Linked DNA regions of Homo sapiens. The protein of the gene in region 2 interacts with the protein of the main gene of each other region in a biochemical or structural test. Each region holds a gene or a part of one and is shown on either strand. Other genes may lie near its edges.

What was found. The genes of interacting proteins can lie anywhere in the genome.
Region 1: the proteins of PEX19 (region 2) and PEX2 interact in a test that uses a peptide from one of them, tested with the Homo sapiens proteins (one study listed by IntAct).
Region 3: the proteins of PEX19 (region 2) and SLC25A17 form a complex in vitro, tested with the Homo sapiens proteins (one study listed by BioGRID and IntAct).
Region 4: the proteins of PEX19 (region 2) and ABCD2 form a complex in vitro, tested with the Homo sapiens proteins (3 studies listed by BioGRID and IntAct, with this or other methods).

Annotation. Positions count from the first base shown.
Region 1 is NC_000008.11:76,978,774-76,984,070, reverse strand, and holds the end of PEX2 (peroxisome biogenesis factor 2), read left to right. Parts: coding exon 1-810; 3' UTR 811-3,813; downstream 3,814-5,297. UniProt on the Homo sapiens protein: E3 ubiquitin-protein ligase component of a retrotranslocation channel required for peroxisome organization by mediating export of the PEX5 receptor from peroxisomes to the cytosol, thereby promoting PEX5 recycling.
Region 2 is NC_000001.11:160,274,616-160,279,505, forward strand, and holds the end of PEX19 (peroxisomal biogenesis factor 19), read right to left. Parts: 3' UTR 2,192-4,890; downstream 1-2,191. UniProt on the Homo sapiens protein: Necessary for early peroxisomal biogenesis. Acts both as a cytosolic chaperone and as an import receptor for peroxisomal membrane proteins (PMPs).
Region 3 is NC_000022.11:40,787,363-40,792,838, forward strand, and holds part of SLC25A17 (peroxisomal membrane protein PMP34), read right to left. Parts: intron 5,315-5,476; coding exon 5,163-5,314; intron 1-5,162.
Region 4 is NC_000012.12:39,556,320-39,561,795, reverse strand, and holds part of ABCD2 (ATP-binding cassette sub-family D member 2), read left to right. Parts: intron 1-5,476.

The DNA.
Region 1 (5,297 bases), on a different chromosome or scaffold from region 2:
TTTACTCAGTGCTTTCATGGATTTAAACCTGGGCTGTTAGCTCGCTTTGAGCCAGAGGTGAAAGCGTGCTTATGGGTTTTCTTGTGGAGATTCACCATCTACTCCAAAAATGCCACAGTGGGACAGTCAGTTTTGAATATTAAGTACAAAAATGATTTTTCCCCTAACCTGAGATATCAGCCACCCAGTAAAAATCAAAAAATCTGGTATGCTGTTTGTACAATTGGTGGCAGGTGGTTAGAAGAACGATGCTATGATTTGTTTCGAAACCATCATTTAGCATCATTTGGGAAAGTCAAGCAGTGTGTGAATTTTGTGATTGGACTTTTGAAATTAGGTGGGCTGATTAATTTTTTGATTTTCCTTCAGAGGGGAAAGTTTGCAACTTTGACAGAACGTCTCCTAGGTATTCATTCTGTATTTTGCAAGCCTCAAAACATATGTGAAGTTGGCTTTGAATACATGAATAGGGAACTTCTCTGGCATGGTTTTGCTGAATTTCTGATTTTTCTCTTACCACTTATCAATGTCCAGAAGTTGAAAGCCAAGCTGTCTTCATGGTGTATTCCTCTTACTGGTGCACCTAATAGTGACAATACATTAGCCACCAGTGGCAAAGAATGCGCTCTATGTGGAGAGTGGCCCACCATGCCTCACACCATAGGATGTGAGCATATTTTCTGTTATTTCTGTGCTAAGAGTAGTTTCTTATTTGACGTGTACTTTACTTGTCCTAAGTGTGGCACAGAAGTACACAGTCTGCAGCCACTGAAATCAGGAATCGAGATGTCAGAAGTAAATGCTCTTTAGAAACTAAAATTGCTTCCTTTGAGGAAAAAAATGCACCGTGTTTAAATTCTTAATATTAGTCATCCTAAGTATACCATTTATGTATCCTTTATAAGGAATGTGCTCCTAGCCACTGTCTTCTCCTTTCCAGGCATGACTGAAATCTAATCACTGGAAACCATGTGATTCTAAATATATTATGTAAATGTTAATGTATTATGTTTTTTAAATCATTGCATTCAATTTTTAATGTCAAGAATAATGGACAGCTTTTGTCAGGTGACTACTAACAATGCTCCTTCATTTTACTACTTCTTAAAACAAGGTTGGATTCTAAAGATAAAGATTTTGGAGACTCTGGGATGAGTGTGCATTTATTTTCAGAGTTGACATAATATGATAATGTGACAATTATGAGACTGTTTTAAACCTTAAGACCTGATGCCTCAGTTGTAACTTTTTTTTTTTTTTCTGAGACGGTGTCCTGCTCTGTCACCCAGGCTGGAGTGCAGTGGCGCGATCTCTGCTCACTGCAACGTCCGCCTCCCGGGTTCAAGCAATTCTCCTGCCTCAGCCTCCCGAGTAGCTGGCACTGCAGGTGCATGCCACCATGCCCGGGTAATTTTTGTATTTTTAGTAGAGATGGGGTTCACTGTGTTAGCCAGGATGGTCTCTATCTCCTGATCTGGTGATCCACCTGCGTCAGCCTCCCAAAGTGCTGAGATTACAGACGTGAGCCACTGTGCTTGGCCGCCTCAGTTGTAATGTTATGCTTTTCTCTGAAGCCAATTTTTAAGAAGTTCAGTCCTCAGCTGTCTGACCCCTCCACAGTTGGCTTTATATTCAGAAAGTAAAAATTACTTAAGGCAGCTTGGAAGTGAGGCCTGGGAACTACTGGGGGCAACTAGTATGAACAGCACTATTTACAGGTCTCTTTCTCTTGCCTTTGATTCAGAGCTGTCATTCTCAGTAAATATTGATAGTTTTATTGAAACAAAAGGGGTCTTTAGCATGGGAATAGTAACAGCAGTGCATAATCAAGATAATTCTGTATCCTTCACTCTTTTTCTCTGCCTTTTTTTACTTAAAAGTAAATTCAGACTCTTAAAATGGTATAGAATTATTAGCTTGAACATTGAATTATCTCGTCTTAACTAGAATGTTTTTTAAAAAACAGTTTTTAAATGTTTTTAAATAAACATCTTGCTAGTATGATGGAAATACACTGCCAGTTCATTTTTCTCTTCACCTTTCATTGAACAAGTACTCAGGTGCCAGGTACTGATGTAGCCATTAGAGGCACAACAGTATATTAAGCAGGAAAAATCAAGTTACCTTCATGGAGTTTACATTCTGTGATTGAATGAACTGTAAGTTTAATTTAGGTTCAATTTAGTGTAAGATACTGAAGAAGTTTTGTAGTTTGAGTTAAGAGTATTTTACATCTTAAGAATTTGCCTTCTTTTGCCTTCTGTAATTTTAAAACATTATTGTAGAAAACACCAACAATTCAGGAAAAAATATAAAATCAACTTTCCCACAATTTTTTGAGAGAGATCATCACTATATTTTACTATATTTGTAGATTTGTTGCACGTACATTTCTTATTTACAAAATTATTATAATGCATAAAAAATAGCATTTTTTCCTATGTATAAATATTCTTCAAAACTATTTTAGGGCTGAGCACAATGGCTCATGCCTGTAATCCCAGGCTCCCTACTTAGGGAGGCTGAGCCCAGGAGTTTGAGTTCGTTTCTAAAAAAATAAAAATATATACAAACGTCTTTGTTTTTTGTTTGTTTGTTTGTTTTTGGTGAGAAAGGGCCTCACCCAGTCACCCAGGTTGGAGTGCAGTGGTGTGATCATGGCTAACCGCAGCCTTTCCCTCCCAGGGCTCAAGCGATCCTCCCATCTGAGCCTCCCAAGTTGCTGGGACCACAGGCCCATACCACCATGCCTGGCTAATTTTTGTAGAGATGAGGTCTCACTTTGTTGCCCAGGCTGGTCTTGAACTTCTGGGCTCAAGCAGTCCTCCTACCCTGGCCTCCCAAAGTTGTGGGATTACAGGCATGAGCCACTGCACCCAGCCATAATATATTTTTAAAATGCTATGTATATGCCATCATATTCCTATTCCTATTATTATTTAACCACCATCATAGAGCATTTAGGTTCTTTTCACTTTCTGTTGTGAATAATGCAATGTTGAATCTGAGTTCATTAAGTGAAGAGTCCAGCTGCACACTGCAGGCCCAGTCTGGATGTAGGTGCTCAGATGGTTCTCTTTGAGACAGGCTTTATCCTTTGGCTCTCATTTTTTTGATGAGTGTACATGGCATGAGGGACACAGATTCCGCTAGAATTCAAATCCCACTTGTGTATAACCTAGGGCAATGTGCCACATCTCTGCACATCTGTTCATTGTAAGGATTACATGTTTAGTGTATATAAAGCTCTTAAAACAATGCCTGACACATAGTAAATAGAATATAATAGTAGTGCTTTCCTTTGCTGTTGTCAGTATTACTCTGAGTCGGTTTCATTCTCACACAGAATGATGGCCGCTAGAAGCTCAAGGCTTATAATCTGCTAGCTTTCTGATCCCACTGGCATGAGATACTCTTGCCTAATAGTTACAGCTAAAGTCCAGGAGCTCACTGTTACTGGTCTGCCTTGGATTATGTGCACATTCCTGAACCAGCCACTATAGCTAGGGGATGGAAAATACTGTTCCTGGTTACTTAAATGTAGGTGATGCTCCTCCCATATACCACATGAACCTAAAGGAGTCCTGGAGGAGGCCGTTCACCACAGGAAACTGAGGTGTTCTTAGAAGGGTGGATGCTGGCAGATCTCTACTAGTTAGAGTCTACATTTGCCTTACTCATTTCAAAAGTCCACATTGCAGTCTCATTTTACCAGTGATCTAGCTTGATAAGGACATTCATAAGTAACTGGATGATTCTTTAACATTGCAGATTTGAAAGGATTAAATAAAGTCAACAAAATTGTTATATCAACAATTGTATTATTTTGATAGAGTAACTTCTAAGTAGTTATCCATATTCTCAAAATCTTAAGAAAACAGTACTTTACATATATGCCAGCTGATAGACTTGTCAGTATTGGGGTAGGGGGTGGTTTTTTTCCACAGACCCTAATGGCACTTAGTAAAAATAGGTTTTTATTATTTTTCATTTTTATTTAACATCTGCCACCCCTACTAGGTGATAACCCCCATGAGTTCAGAGACCATGACTATTTTGTTCATCACTAGATAGCCAGAGCCTTTTAGTTCTAGTGTAGCAATAGAAACATTTTATTAGCTGAATAAACCTAAGGTCGCAGATAGGGTTCTGCAGAAGCTGGCGTTGAAAGGGGTTTGAAGTACAAGAGATTTTTATGTATAACTCTCAGGGATCCATGCCTGTGAAGGGAAAGAGCAAAGCAGGAATAGGCAGAAGAAATGAGAGTACTCTAAAGCAGGCCTGAAAAAAGTTGGCCAGCCCAGAGGGGAGCTCTGAGCTAGTGTCATCTGTCAGAATGTCCTAAATTAGGCCAAAGTAAATAGGCCTTTTTACCTACACTTCTGTCAGTCACTGGGTGTGGGCAGCTCTGGGAAGGTTGTGATCTCAAGCATGGCAGCTCTGTAGCGGAAGCAGATCCTGTGGGAGCCAACAGCTGGAGGCAGTCCACTGACCACATTCCACAGCTGGGCACCATGTACATCCTTGCAGGAGGAGCCAGGTGGCATATCTTGGTGTGTACCACATCTAATACTGTCCATTTTTTCCTTTCTGGTTTCCTTTTTTTTTGTTTTTCTTGCATATAGTACACTGGACAAACAACACACTAATGCCAGGTAGTGTTCGTTTATAAACAATAGATTTATGACTGACACACCCAAGTGTCTCTTGAGTATCTCTGCCCCACTACAAATACCAGACTTCTTGGCCAAGTTGCTATGACAGCCCCCAGGAACTCCATTCAGTCTCTGCCTCTCTGGGCACTGCCAGAAGAGTTGCTATACCTCTGGTGCGACTGTTTCTACTCCCCAGCAGGCTCCAGGCTCAAGCTTTAGGAAAACTGGATGGGATTTAGCTACATGATATGTTTCCATGTTAGCCTCAAGTATGTAACCATCAGTTACAAGTGTTCTTCCTTAGGAAAATAAAAACATTTACACTTAACATTTTTCTTTTCTCTCCCTTGCACTTGCTCTCAAATCAAGTTTGCTACTTTTGTATTTAAAGTACCCAAGTGACTTCAGTGATCATATCTAAATTACTCAGATATCAATCAGAGCTCACACAAGGCATGTCCTACTACTTTGCTCTCAGCTCCCCTGCTTTCAGTATTTAGTGACTGGATTTGGGACAAGTTCATTTAACTTAAGATTCAATTTGTTCACCTATGAAATGGACATTCAATAATGTCTACCTGTTAGAATTCTAATGGGAATTAAATAAAGCATTCTCTCAAAAATTATCTATTGAGCCCCTGC
Region 2 (4,890 bases):
CAAAAACTTCTGCATATTCTTTTCCCAGTGTTTGGTTGTGATATTGTAAAATATGTATTTGGTCTTTAACCCCTTTTCCTGGAATATAACTTCTAAAATCCTTAAAATCTTCAAAGTGATGTCTTATTGTATTCCAATGAGTTGACTGATGGTTGGCATCCCCTAGGTAGCTTCAGGTTCAGGGTCAGTCAACAAAAAGACCAAAGCAGTATTAGAGGGTTGGAACTTTCAACCCCACCCCCAAACCTCTAGGGAGGACAGAGGGGCTGAATTTTAAATTAATCACCAATGGCCAATGGTTCAGCTAATCATGCCTATATATAAAGCCTCCATAAAAACCCAAAAAGACAAGATCTAGACAGCTTCCAAGATGTCAAACACATGAGGGTTTATAGAATGAGGGGTCCCCAACACCTGGGCCACGAACCAGTACCAGTCCATGGCTTGTTAGGAACTGGGCCTCACAGCAGGAGGTGAGTGGCAGGTGGGCCAGCAATACCGCCTAAGCTCCACCTCCTGTCAGATCAGCAGTGGCACTAGATTCTCAGAGGAGTGCAAACCCTATTGTGAACTGCACATGCGAGGGATCTAGGTTGTGTGCCCCTTATGAGAATCTAGCTAATGCCTGATGATCCGAGGTAGAACAGTTTCATCCCAAAACCATCCCCCCACCCCCCTCTGTGGAAAACTTGTCTTCTATGAAACTGGTCCCTGGTGCCAAGAATGTTGGGGACCGCTGTCCTAAATGGTGGCATGCCCAGAGAAGGAATGGAAGCTCTGCAACCTTGCCTTATACATCTTTTCATCTTTTTTTTTTTGAGAGATGGAGTCTTGCTCTGTCTGTTGCCCAGGCTGGAGTACAGTGGCACAGTCTCAGCTCACTGCAACCTCCGCCTCCCCAGTTCAAGCAATTCTCCTTCCTCAGCTTCCCAAGTAGCTGGGACTACAGGCATGCACCACCACACCCAGCTAAATTTTGTATTTTTTTAATAGAGACGGGGTTTCACTATGTTCGCCAGGCTGGTCTCGAACTCCTGACCTTAGGTGATCCACCCACCTCGGCCTCCCAAAGTGTTGGGATTACAAGCGTGAGCCACTGGGTCCAGCCATGTTTTCATCTATATTCATTGTAATATCCTTTAAATAAACTGAAATATGTAAGTAAGTGTTTCCCCAAGTTTTGTGGGCCACTCTAACAAATTAACCAAACCCAAGGAGCTGGCTGTAGACACCCTGATTTATAGCACAGGCAAAATAACCCAGGAATTGCAATTGACATCAGAAGTTGGGGGGGAGAGTCTCAGTGATTGATTGGTCAACCTGTGGGATCTGACACTGTCTCCAGGTAGACAGTGTCAGAATTAAAGTAAATTAGAGGATATCCAGCTGTTATCCACTGCAGAATTGCTTGCTTGTTGAGGGGAGGGAATTCCACACGTGATTACAGAAGAGTTCTGTGTCACTCATTGTGGTGTGAGAACAGAGGATGAACAGTGCTTTTCCACTCAATGATTAACTGATAAATGTCTCTTTCCATTGATAGTTTATGAGTCTAAGAACTATCTCAGGCTTAAAAACTGGACAAGAAATGGGGACTTTTCTTTGAAGTTTCTGACTTCAGCCTTCTGTTCAACCATTCTTGATCTCCCTTATATATAAGACAATACTCTTCTTGGTTGCCCATCTATCCTGCTCCTAGGACCACTCACATTCCGTTAGCCATCTCCACTTTGACCTTGCTACCCTTAAGGAAATTTACTCACCTTGCTTCTGAGAGTTAAGTGTTGCCACCTGGCCTCTGCTATGTCAGGATCCTATCATTCCCCCACTGCTACTAGGAAAACAGTTTCTTTTACATCTTGTATCAGCTTCGATCTAGAGAGACAGCCACTTCTAAATTTCTCAAAGATGCTGGTAACCCTTCATCAGTGCCTTTCCCATTGTCTTTATTAAAAAATAATTCCCAGGTCTTTCTGGGGTAGTCAGCTGGTGGGTTTACCAGTGTTATATAACATTCATTCTTGCATACCCATTTCCTCTAAGTCTTTTGGTCCTTTTTTGTATGGTCTGCCGTCTCCACGTCATTCAATATGGGCCAATGTTTTCTCCTAGCTCCCCAAAGCCATCTTAACATCATATTATAACTGCCTCATGGGGCTTTGACAAGACCTTCCAGAGTCACAGGAAAATGTCCCAATTATCAAAAAGTCTGTATTAATTCAATTCTTAATTCATGAAGCCACCCATACAATCACAAATTTATCTAACACATTTAATTTTGGAACAAAGGAGCAACTCCTTTAAAGTTTGAGAGTCGCATAAATATTTCATATACAGCTTAAACCTAAGCTTTGTAACGATTATTTTTGAGCAGCAGAAAAGGAAGGCTAGAGAAATGCTAGAGATGTCCTTACTAGTGACACATTCTTGCTGAAGAACAAGTTCTCTGGAAGTGAAACTCAAATAGGAGAGAACAAGAGATACAGGTAGGTATCAGTTCTGCTAGGGTCTTCAGAGAGACCGAGGGCCCCAAAACAGTGCTACTCAAAGATGATCTGCAGACTTGTGCTGGTCAGTGAACACCTTTTTTTTTTTTTCACCAGTCTGTGACATGGTGAATTAGAAATTGAGAGTGTTTAAAAACTTTTTAGCATTTCAATGTTGCTGTGATATCCAAGTACATGATCAATGGACTTAACCTACAGAACAGTCTGGCCAGTTTGGGTGCTGTCAAACTTGCCGGGTCGGCAGCACACAGTGTGAACTCCATACCTGTCATGGGCAATAGGAATGCATATTGATAAGTGAAGGACTGGAAAACAAAAAACCTGGTCCTTTACCATACATAGTTTGAGAAAGACTGCCCTAGAGTACCATAACTCCACCACAAGTCCTGGAATAATTCCAAAAGTTTTTGGAACAAAGTGTGACCTGAGGTCAACCTGCTCACATTCAATCAAAATCAAAATAAAAATGAGTGCCTTGGGAACAAAGATAAAGTGGACTAGGGCATCTATTTAGATTCCTGGAGTAAGCCCTGGCTAGGCTAGCAGAAGTGAGAATCTGTAAAAGAAAACTGGTAGGACAGAAGGCACAAGGTTCATAGAGAAGGGCTCTTTTGTTCTTCCCTCCTCCTCTCTATCCTTGTCCAGTTTTTGGCTGGAGCTTTAAGGAGAAAATAGTGACACTGAAGCCCCATGACTATATCACAAGTATACCTGTATTTTTTCCATCTCTGGCAGAACAGAGACGTTTTACATTCAGATCTGGGCTCTTCCATGCTCTGGTAAGGTATAGGAGTTGGAATTTCCCAAATAGCCTGAGACCTTGAGAACATTTCCTTCCTCACCAATACCATAAAACATGTAAGGTCTTCAAGGGGTGAAAAGTTTTAACCTCGGGGCAAGTGACATGTCAGAAGCTCAAAGCGACTCATAATGCATGTGAATTTGCTTTGGAGAGACTTATCTTCTGAGTGAACCAGGACAGCCAGCTGAGCTGACCAGAGTACCTACCAACATATGTCAGCCAAGGTCCGTAGACCCACTGGGAGCCACAGAAAAAAAGCCACGTCAGCTTAAAGAAAAATAATTTAGAAAACATAACAATATATTACTAACATTAATAACAATAATGTAAAAGGTTAAAATATAATACCACTTGAAGGGCTTTCTACATTGAAATACTCAAGGGAACATGAGGAAAGATGGCCATCCAGTCTCCTTTGCCAACTGAGGTGCAGACTGAGTTGTGGAAGGTGGGTGTTGATGGAACCCAGCATTACAATATTGTGTAGAACTAGTCTCCTAATATACCTCACTCTGCAACTTACGGAAGCTGAGGAAGATCAGAAAAAGACCACACTCCTCACTCAGAATATTTATTATATTCTGCCCCATGGGGCCTTGCAGGAAAAGGGACCCAAGCTATACCCCTACTCCTTTTCCAAGCTACTTTCCTGAACCAAGGGACAGGATTCTAAGAGAATCATGTATCTCAAATAAGCCAGAATGTATCTGGGGAAGAATAGCCATTAATTTCCTAGACCTGACACTGGGTTTATTTGTGTCTGCCAGGAAGACGGGGAGTCAGTGAGAATCGTAAATGGACTAGATGAGGGGAAATAGGATGGGCCCTTCTTTATCACAGCTTGAGCTCAAAAAGGTTGGGATAAACAGGTGTTTAAAAAAGAGAGGAGGTAAAAGGGAGGATGGGCAGGGGATAGAGGAAGGTCAGGGGCTGGGTTCACCCATATCACACAGCATTGTAGGAAGAAGCAGGGTAACCATTTGAGTTCTCAGCCTGGAACAGGGAGGTGAGGGCTCAGCACCTAGAGAGAGGAGAATCCTAAGGCCTCTCTTTCAACTCTATTGTGATTAGATGCAAAAGCCCTTTCCCTTTAGAGAATTCAGAATGGTCTGTCTGAAGGCAAGAGAGCATAGTGACAGACCTGTAGCCCCAGCCCAGGCTGTTTCTCCCCATTCTCAAAGGCTCTGCCAGGAGAACTATAGAAATACAGAGTCCCAGGTCTCTGCCCCTCCTCCCCAGATCCAAGAGAGGGAGTAGAGACAAGGCACAAAGACCCTGGACGTAAAGGTGAACATCAGTGTGGCCACATATAACATTATTTTGAGAAAGGAAAGAAAGTGCATGCCCCAAAAGGGATGCCTTCCTTCACCTTGCAGGTAGCTGGAACTTTGATAGTGGCAGAAACCACAATGGAGTAGGGTTCACAGAAATGGCCTGTGAAACAGACCCTATTCCTAGAGAGACAGAGGAAAAACCTCAGCTGGTATGGCACAATCTTGAATGGGATGACAGAGGGCAGCGGGCAGACTTCTCCCGCAGGTGACACTCCTGCCTCAGGTCCCAATGGTTCTGCTGACTCCA
Region 3 (5,476 bases), on a different chromosome or scaffold from region 2:
CAGATTTGAGAATAAACAGTTCACTCTTGGTAAGCGTAAAACTCAGTTACTAGAAGTGGAAGAGCACAGGCATCCTAGCGAGTAGCCTACCTGTTACAAGGGCTCAGCGTGCTGTGGTGTCTGCAGTCAAGATCAGTAAAGATCAAGCTTGAGGTAATTTGTATCACAGCAGATAAGATATGTCAGGCTTTTATCCTATAAAAGTATACCAGCAGGAGTCTGGTATACTGAAGGTGCCAAGCTGCATGCAAGGAACAGATACTGAAAGCTTTTAAGCAGGGATAAAACAGACTTAGAGTTTCAGAATAGCAGTTCTTGACAGTTTTCTTTTCTTCTTTTTTTTTTAGACTTGAAAAACACTTATTTTACTGTCTTCGACAACAACAACAACAACAACAAAGATAGGCAGGGAAAGTCTAGAGGACTTAGAATTGAACCAGCTCCATACAAAAATGAAGATGGTATAATGATGTGAGTTCAAAGAAAATGACTAAAACAAAATTTTACAAACATCTTTGTAGGTTTATGATAAACTGTCAACCTTCCATTTAATGCATTTACTTTTGTTTTATTTATAGAGATGGGGTCTCGCTATGTTGCCGAGATTGGTCTTGAACTCCGGAGCTCAAGCAATCCTCCCACCTTGGCCTCCCAAAGTGCTGGGATTACAGGCGTGAGCCACTGCACTTGGCCTTAATCTGTTTACTTTTATAAGCCTTCTCTATTTAGAAGTACGCACTACACAAGTACATACATTCTGGTATTTTACCATGAAAATTTCACTTTTCATCACAAACTAGTGACTTGCCTTTTTACCCATACTTATACGCATGTAATACCTTCCTAGTGGTACATCTTAATCAATATATATTTTTTAAATCTTGATTTTTAAATGAATCTTTTTAGTGCTATGACATGATGGGCTTAATTTAACAGATGAAGCATGATATGGTAACTACATTGTACTGTTTAAACTAATTCACAGCTGTAGGAAAATGTTTGATTTTTGAAATATAACCAAGATGAGGCTGGACAATAATAAACACTGGGCCGGGCGTTGCGGCTCATGCCTATAATCCCAGCACTTTGGGAGGCCAACGCAGACAGATCACGAGGTCAGGAGTTCGAGACCAGCCTGACCAACATGGTGAAACTCCATATCTACTAAAAATACAAAAATTAGCCAGGCGTGGTGGTGTGCGCCTGTAATTCCAGCTACTCAGGAGGCTGAGGCAGCAGAATCACTTGAACCTGGGAGGCAGAGGTCACAGTGAGCCAAGATCACGCCACTGCACTCCAGCCTGGGAGAGAGAGCGAGACTCCATCTCAAAAACTTAAAATAAAATAAAATAAAAACAAAACAAAACACTGAAATACTGGAAGACAGTGAATGAATAAATAATATGATTTTTCATCAGTGGCCATTCATTATTTTGCTTTTAGAAACCTGGAAGAAATTATCTTCTTTGAGTTTCAAATGTTCTGGTAAATCTAGTCATTTCTTAGCTTCCTCAAAAATCACCTTGAATTGCTGAAATAAGTGACTCTCATGAATCAAAGTTCTTTTCTGGTCTGAGGTAGCCAACAACGGCCACACTCAGGATTTCCCCATAGAAGTGCTCTTTGAAGGTATGCATGGTATGTGTTTCCATGGACTTCTTCGTATTCTCATAGTATGGGTTCCATCCTATGCTCACCACCATCTTCTGACCATCTCTACTTCCAGCACTGGCCCAACCATAATAAATGCCACTGGATATATCGGCTGGCAGATTATCTACCACTTGCTCAGGAAAATTAGCTGTGGGGGATGCCCAGCTGCTTGTAGCCACGGCCGAAGCCCCATACCACTTGGTCCCGGCAGGAGTATGACAGATGCTTCGTAATGCAGTCTGCTCGAGGCATGGGCTGCAGCCCGGTCCCTGCGTCCTACAGAGACACCGTCCACGCGGTGCCCGGACCCCGGACCAGCCACGGGGTGGGAAGGGGCGTGAGCTCTGTCTGCCGCGGGGGTGCACCAGGGGCCCGACGATGCCGATGACACGCCACGGAGGATCCCTGATGCCAGCGACTCAGGAGCTGGGTCTCCCAACCATTTTCATTTTCTTTCTTTCCTTCTTTCCCTACCTTTTAAAATATTTTATGTTTGTTTGTTTATTTAGAGGTAGAGTTTCCCTCTTGTTGCCCAGGCTGGAGTGCAGTGGCATGATCTTGGCTCACTGCAACCTCTGCCTGCCAGGTTCAAACAATTCTCCTGCCTCAGTCTCCCAAGTAGGTGGAATTACAGGCACCTGCTACCACACCTGGCTAATTTTTTGTATTTTCAGTAAAGGTGGGGTTTCACCATGTAGGCTAGGCTGTTCTCGAACTCCTGACCTCAGGTGATACACCCGCCTCAGCCTCTCAAAGTGCTGGGATTACAGGCGTGAGCCACCGCGCCTGGTCTAAAATTTATTTTTTATAGAGATGGGGTCTTGCTATGTTGCCCAGGCTGGTCTCAAACTGCGGGCTCAAGTGATCCTCCTGCCTTGACCTCCCAAACTGCTGGGATTACAGGGGTGAGCCACCACACCTGGCCTTGGACCATTTTCTGACAAGACAACAGATGATGCTCACAGTCAACACAGACCCGTAGACTCTCCTATGTGTCAACTGTAATCCTACCCCCTTCTCACACACTCAAGAAAACACTTTAGGCTGGGCGCGGTGGCTCACGCCTGTAATCCCAGCACTTTGGGAGGCCGAGGCAGGCAGATCACCTGAGGTCAGGAGTTTGAGACCAGCCTGGCCAACATGGTGAAACCCTATCTTTACTAAAAATATAAAAAATTAGCTGGGCATGGTGGTGGGTGCCTGTAATCCCAGCTACTCAGGTGGCTGAGGTAGGAAAATTGCTTGAACCCAGGAGGTGGAGGTTGCAGCAATCCAAGATTATGCCACTGCACTCCAGCCTGGGCAACAGAGTGAGACACAATCTCAAAAAAAAAAAAAAAAAAAAAAGTGGAAGAGTGAACTTTAAAGTTAAAATACAACAATTAAGGTTAGTAGGCTATTTATTATATGTGTTACTTTAACTGACTTTTTAAAATTGAGCCCTGAAAAAAAAAAGAAAAAAATTGTTCATGAGCCCTGAAAAAAAAATTTTAGACAAGTGGAAAAAAGTAAAAAATGAAAGCTAACTGCCCTACTATACCAGTCCAGCTGTGTTAGGTATGGGGGAGTCTGCTGTAATCCTAAATTGCACTAAGAGTTAGAAAGATGAACAGGACAGAGAGAGTAACACAGGGGTGGTATATATCTGGTGGGTAATGGGATGGCAGACACAGCAAATAAACCGCTTTGGACAATTTAAAAAGCAAAAGATTTCAACATATAGTCCATGAATTAGAAGTTTCATGGAAAGTTATATGAGTTAGTCCCTGTAAGTTATAATCTTTCAAATGCAAATACATATAAACTAATCTAAAATGATTAAAATCAAAGTATTACAAATAACTGGTCTCAAGTATAGAAGATCCCACTAGATTGCCATTTGTTGTAATTTATGTAAAAAACAAGTCTTTTTCTGTACAGGAACTATTCTAATTTTTTTCCCCAAGTGAACAAATCTCAAACTTGAGTTCTTTGAGTCGTGATACTCTTTGAAAACTACTCTCCTAGAAAGGCTGCAAAACTGTGCAAAGTGGGTTCATGAGGAAGACCTCAAAGGGAAGATCAGACTATAGTGCAATAGTCCAGGTGAGCAATGATAAGGTTTGATTTGGGGAAATGGCTATGGATATGGAGAAGAGGAAATGGATCCAAGAGACAGTGAGGAGACAGACCAGTGGTTCTTGATGGCCAAGCAGATGTGGAGGGTGGGAAGGCACGAAGAGCCTGTGATGACTCCTAGACTTCTATCCTGAGTTATTTATCCAAAATTCAACTTCTCTCCCCTTCTCTCTAAGCACATGGCTGGTTCCTCTGGCCACCAGCCTCCATCCTGAAGCTATCTAGGAGCCCACCAATAGTAACTTTATTAGCCTAAACTCAGAGATAGTTCAAAGGGGCTCATTAGGAATAACAAAAGATACTACTACTCAGGAAATTCCAATGGTTTTAGGAACTGTGCCAGGAACCAGGGACAAAGGCCACATACATTTTTTATTATACCACATACAGACATCCTACAACTTCAGAGCAAAAAAATGTAATAACCTGATTAAAAAATAGACAAAGAACCAGAACAGACATTTCTGCAAAGATAATATACAAATGGCCAACAAACATATGAAAAGTGATGTTCAGCATCACTAATCATCAGAGAAATGCAAATCAAAGCCACAGTGAGATATCACCTCATACCCATTAGGATGGCTACTATCATAAAACAGAAAGTAAGTGTTAGTGAGGATGTGGAAATATGGGAACTTCTGTGTACTGTTGGTGGGATTATAAATGTTACAGTGTTATGGAAAACAGTATGGAGGTTCCCGAGAAAACTGAACAGAATTCCAAATGATCCAGCAATCCCACTTCTGGGTATATATCCAGAAGAATGGAAAGCAGGCTCTCAAAGAGAGAGCTACACATCCATTTTCATAGCACTATTCACAACAGCCAAAAGATGGAAGCAACTTAAGTGCCTATTAACAGATGAATGGATAAACAGAATGTGATATATACATATAATGGAATATTATTCAGTCATAAAAAAGTAAGGAAGTCATGTCACATGCTGTATGGCATGGATGAAAGTAGAAGACATTATACTAAGTGAAGTAAGCCAGTCACAAAAAAAACAAGTAGTGTATGATTCGACTTATATCAAGTATCTAAAGTAGTCAAATTCTTAGAAACCGAAAGTAGAATGGTGGTTACTAAGGGGCTCAGGGAAAGGGAAAAGGGGAGTTTAATGAGAATAGAATCAGGTCTGCAATATGCAAAAGTACTGGAGATTTGTTTCATAACATTGTGAACATGTTTAACACTACTGACCTTACACTTAAAATTAACATGGTAAATTTTATGTCACGTTTTTTAACACAATTAAAAAAAAAAAAACCAAGTTGGAAAACTGGCTATATTCTTTGTAAGCATTACTTTGGGCTAAATAACCTCTTAGAGGATATAAAACCACAAGGTAAATATAAAAACATTTTATACCCAGAAAACCTTGTTACCTGCAACAAACCCAACTACCAGATCTTTTCCAGTGGTAGAATGTTGACCTTTGACCCAGAGTGCTTTGAGGCTATTAAAAGTGTAGAAATAGACAAAATTGGAGCAGCAGAGACTGGAAATCACTGGAAACCACCCTCGATATGGTGCCAGGCTAGGGGAAAAACACAATAAGCAAAGTAAAGGTCATGGACAAATTAGAAATTGGCAGAGAAATCCTAGGAAAGGCTGACCATCATTCACATGGTCTCAAGCTTCACTCCTACACGAATACAAGGGACTCCAAACTGTACACACACCTCACATTCTGAAGGAT
Region 4 (5,476 bases), on a different chromosome or scaffold from region 2:
GATTTTCTGTCTGGATGATCTAATTGCTGAAAGTAGGGTGTTGAAGTCTCCTACTCGTATTGTAGTTCACTTCTTTCAGATCTAGGAGTATTTGATTTATATATGTGCTCTGATGTTGGGTTCAAATATATTCAGAATTATCATATCTTCTTGCTGAATTGACCTGTTTATTATTATATAATAACATTCTTGGCCTCTTTTATAGCTTTCACTTAAAGTCTATTTTACCTGACATTAGTATAGCTACTCCTGATGCCTTTTAGTTTTCATTTGGATAAAATATCTTTTGCATTCCTTCACTTTTAGTCTATATTGTCCTTGCAGATGAAGTGAGTCTCCTGTAAGCAGCGCACAGTTGGGTCTTGCTTTTTAATCCAGACACTGTCTTTTTTTTTTTTTTTTTTGAGACAGAGTCTTGCTTTGAAGCCCAGGCTGGAGTGCAGTGGTGTGATCTCAGCTCACTGCAACCTCTGCTTCCAGGTTCAAGTGATTCTCCTGCCTCAGCCTCCTTAGTAGCTAGGATTACAGGGGTCCACCACAAAACCCAGCTATTTTTTTTTTTAGTAGAGACGGGGTTTCACCATGTTGGCCAGGCTGGTCTCAAACTCCTGACCTCAAGTGATCTGCCCACCTCAGCCTCCAAAAGCACTGAGATTACAGACGTGAGCCACTGCACCTGGCCCAGAAACTATGTGTTTTAATTGGAGAACTTAATCCATTAATATTCAAGGTAATTATTAATAGGTAAGGAATTACTCCTGTCATTTTGTTAATTGCTTTCTAGTTGTTTTGTAGATATTTTCTTCCTTTTTTCTTCTCACAGTCTTTCTTTGTGGGTAAGTGATTTTCTTTAGTAATATGCTTTGATTCCTTGCTTTTTATTTTTAGTGCGTCTACTACAGATTTTTGCTCTGTAGTTACCATGAGGCTTACCAAAAACATCTTATAGTTAAACATGTTATTTTTGTACCTATTATATGTTTTTGCTTCATGGTTACCATGAGGCTTATAAAAACATCTTATAACATGTTATTTTAAGTTCATAACAACTTTAATTTAATTGCAAAAAAGGCACAATCTTTACCCTTTATCTCCCCATTTTGAATTTTTAATATCACAATTTACATCTTTTTATATTGTATATATGTTAACAGATTATTTTAGTTGTTAAAGTATATACAAATTGCAAAAAAACACAACCTTTACCCTTCATCTCCCCATTTTGAATTTTTAGTGTCACAATTTACATCTTTTTATATTGTATATACTTTAACAAATTATTTTAATGGTTATAATTTTTAATAGTTTTGTCTTTTTGTCTTCATACTAAAGAAATAAGTGATTTACCAATAGCAAAGACTTGGAACCAACCCAAATGTCCATCAATGATAGACTGGATTAAGAAAATGTGGCACATATACACCATGGAATACTATGCAGCCATAAAAAAGGATGAGTTCATGTCCTTTGTAGGGACATGGATGAAGCTGGAAACCATCATTCTCAGCAAACTATCACAAGGACAAAAAACCAAACACCACATGTTCTCACTCATAGGTGGGAAGTGAACAATGAGAACACTTGGACACAGGAAGGGGAACATCACACACCGGGGCCTGTTGTGGGGTGGGGGCAGCAGGGAGAGATAGCATTAGGAGATATACCTAATGTAAATGATGAGTTAATGGGTGCAGCACACCAACATGGCACACGTATACGTATGTAACAAACCTGCACATTGTGCACATGTACCCTAGAACTTAAAGTATAATAAAAAAAAGAAATAAGTGATTTACATAACCCCTTTATATTATTTGAGTATTCTGAATTTGACTGTTTACTTGCTTTTACCAGTGAGTTTTATACTTTCTAATGTTTTCTTATTACCCATTAGCATCATTTCTTTCAATGTGAAGAACTCCCTTTAGTACTCCTTATAAGACATATCTGGTGGTGATAAAGCCCCTCAGCTTAGTTTGTGTGGGAAAGTCTATCTCTTTCATTTCCAAAGGACAATTTTGCTAAGAACAGAATTCTTGGCTGAAAGGTTTTTTCCCTTCAGCACGTTGAATATGTAATTCCATTCTCTCCTGGCCTGTGAGGTTTCTGCTGAAAAAGCTGGTAACAGTCATATTAGAACTCCCTTATGTGTTATTTTTTTTTCTTGCTTTCAGGTTTCTCTCTTTGTCTTTGGTTTTTGGCAGTTTGATTGTAATATATCATCGGGTAGTCTTATTTGGATTGAGTATGATTGAAGACTTTTGACCTTCCTGTACCTAGATAGTTATATGTCTCCAGATTTTGAAATGTTTCTGCTATGATTTATTTAAATAAGCTTTATAAATCTTTATCTTTCTTAACTCCTTCTTGAATACCAACAACTCATATATTTCCTTTTTTTTTTTTTTTTTTTTTTTGGAGCTGGAGTCTCACTCTTGTCACCCAGGCTGGAGTGCAATGGTGTGATCTTAGCTCACTGCAACCTCCGCTTCCTGGATTCAAGCAATTCTCCTGCCCTGCCTCAGCATCCCAAATAGCTGAGAGTACAGGCACACACCACCACGCTGGGCTAATTTTGTATTTTTAGTAGAGACAGGGTTTCACCAGGTTGGTCAGGCTGGTCTTGAACTCCTGACCTCACATTATCCACCCACCTCAGCCTCCCGAAGTGATGGGATTACAGGCATGAGCCACCATGTCCAGGCGACATTTGCTCTTTTGATGCTATTCCATAAGTCCCATAAGCTTTCTTCATTCCTTTTCATTCTTTCTTCATATCATAAGTTTGCAAGTAACCTGTTTTCAAGTTCACATATTTTTTTCTTCTGTTTGATAAATTCTGCTATTGATGTCTCCATTGCATTTTTAATTTTTTTCATTGTATTTTTCAGCTCCAGCATTTCTGGCTTTTTTCCCATTATTTCATATCTGTTGCATTTCTCTAATAGATTTCTGAATTGTTTCTCTGTATTTTATTGAAGTGCGCTGTATTAGTTCATTTTCATACTGCTATAAAGAACTGCCTGAGACTGGATAATTTATAAAGAAAAGAGGCTTAATTGACTCACAGTTCAGGATGGCTGGGGAGGCCTCAGAAAACTTATGATCGTGGCAGAAGGTGAGGGGGAAGCAAAGCACCTTATTCACAAGGTGGCAGGAAGGAGAATGAACTCAGGAGGAACTACAAAACACTTATAATACCATCAGATCTCAAGAGAATTCAATCACTATCATGAGAACAACATGGGGGAAACCCCATCATGATCCAATTGCCTCCACCTGGTCTTTCCCTTGACACGTGGAGATTTTGGGGAATACAATTCAAGATAAGATTTTGGGTAAGGAAACAGCCAAACTGTATCATTTCGCCCTGGCCCCTCCCAAATCTTATGTCCTCACTTTCAAAACATAATCATGCCCTTCCAACAGCCCCTCAATGTCTTAACTCATTCCAGCATTAACCCAAGAGTCCAAGTCCAAAGTTAGTTACTTCCTAGATATAATGGGGGTACATGAAATGGGCAAATACACCCATTCCAAATTGGCCAAAAAGAAGGGGCTATAGGCCCTGTGCAAATCCTAAATCCAGTGGATCAGTCAAATCTTAAAGCTCTGAAATAATCTTTAACTCCATATCTCACATCCAGGTGCTGCTGATGCAAGAGTTGGGCTCCCATAGCCTTGGGCTGCTCACCCCTGTAGCTTTGCAGGGTATGGCTGCTTTCATGGGCTGGCATTGAGTGTCTGCTGCTTTTCCAGGTGCATGGTGCAAGCTGTTAGTGGATCTACCATTCTGTGGTCTGGGGGATGGTGGCCCTCTTCTCACAGCTCCACTAGGCAATGCCCCAGTGGGGGCTCTGACCTCACATTTTCCTTCTGCACTACCCTAGCAATGGTTCTCCATAAGGGCTCTGACCCTGCAGCAAACTTCTGCCTGGACATCCAGGTGTTTCCATACATCCTCTGAAATCTAGGCAGAGCTTTCCAAACCTCATTTCTTGACTTCTGTGCACCACAGGTCCAACCACCAAGGACTGGGGCTTGTACCCTCAGAAGGAATGGCCTGAGCTGTACCTTGGCCCATTTTAGCCACAGCTGGGACATAGGGCACCAAGTCCTGAGACTGCACAAAGCAGCAAGTTCCTGGACCTGGCCCAGGAAACCATTTTTACCTCCTATGCCTCCAGGGCTGCCATGAAGACCACTTACATGCCTTGGAGACATTTTCCCCATTGTCTTGGTGATTAACATTTGGTTCCTCATTACTTATGCAAATTTCTGCAGCTGGCTTGAATTTCTCCCAAGAAAAGGGGTTTTTCTTTTCCATTGCATCGCCAGGCTGTAAATTTTCTAAACTTTTATGCTCTGCTTTCCTTTCAAACATAAGTTCCAATTCCAAATCATCTCTTTGTGAAGCATAAAACTGAACACTTTTAAGAGCACCCAGATTACATCTTAAATGCTTTGCTGCTTAGAAATTTCTTCTGCCTAAATCATCTCTCTCAAGTTCAAAGTTCCATAGACCTCTAGGGCAGGGGCAAAATGCCACCAGTCTCTGCTAAAACATAGCAAGAGTCAGCTTTGCTCTAGTTCCCAAGAAGATTCTCATCTTCATCTGAGACTACTTCAGCCTGGCCTTCACTGCTCATATTACTATCAGCATTTTGGTCAAAGCAATTCAATAAGTCCCTAGGAAATTCCAAACTTTCCCACATCTTCCCATCTTCTGAGCCCTCAAAATTGTTTCAATCTCTGCCTGTTACCCAGTTCCAAAGTCACTTCCACATTTTTGGGAATCTTTTTTTTTTTTTTTGAGACAGAGTCTCACTCTGTCACCCAGGTTGGAGTGCAGTGGTGTGATCTTGGCTCACTGCAACATCTGCCTCCTGGGTTCAAGCAATTCCCTGCCTCAGCCTCCTGAGTAGCTGGGATTACAGGCACCCGCCTTCACGCCCAGCTAATTTTTGTATTTTTGTGGAGATGGGGTTTCACCATCTTGGCCAGGCTGGTCTTGAACTCCTGACCTCATGATCCACCTGCCTCAGACTCCCAAAGTGCTGGGATTACAGGCATGAGCCACCATGTTAGGCCTGGGTATCTTTATAGCAGCACCCCATCTACCAGTACCAATTTACTGTATTAGTCTGTTTTCATATCGCTATAAAGAACTGCCCTAGACCGGGTAATTTATAAAGGAAAAAGGGTTTAATTGACTCACAGTTCAGCATGGCTGGGGAGGCCTCAGGAAACTTACAATCATGGTGGAAGGCAAACGGGAAGAAAGGCACCTTCTTCACAAGGCAGCAAGAAAGAGAACGAACACAGGAGGAACTACCAAACACTTATAAAACCACCAGATCTCATGAAAACTCACTCATTATTATGAGAACAGCATGGGGAAAACCACCCCCATGATCCAACTGCCTACGCCTTGTCTCTTCCTTGACACATGGGGCTTATGGGGATTACAATTCAA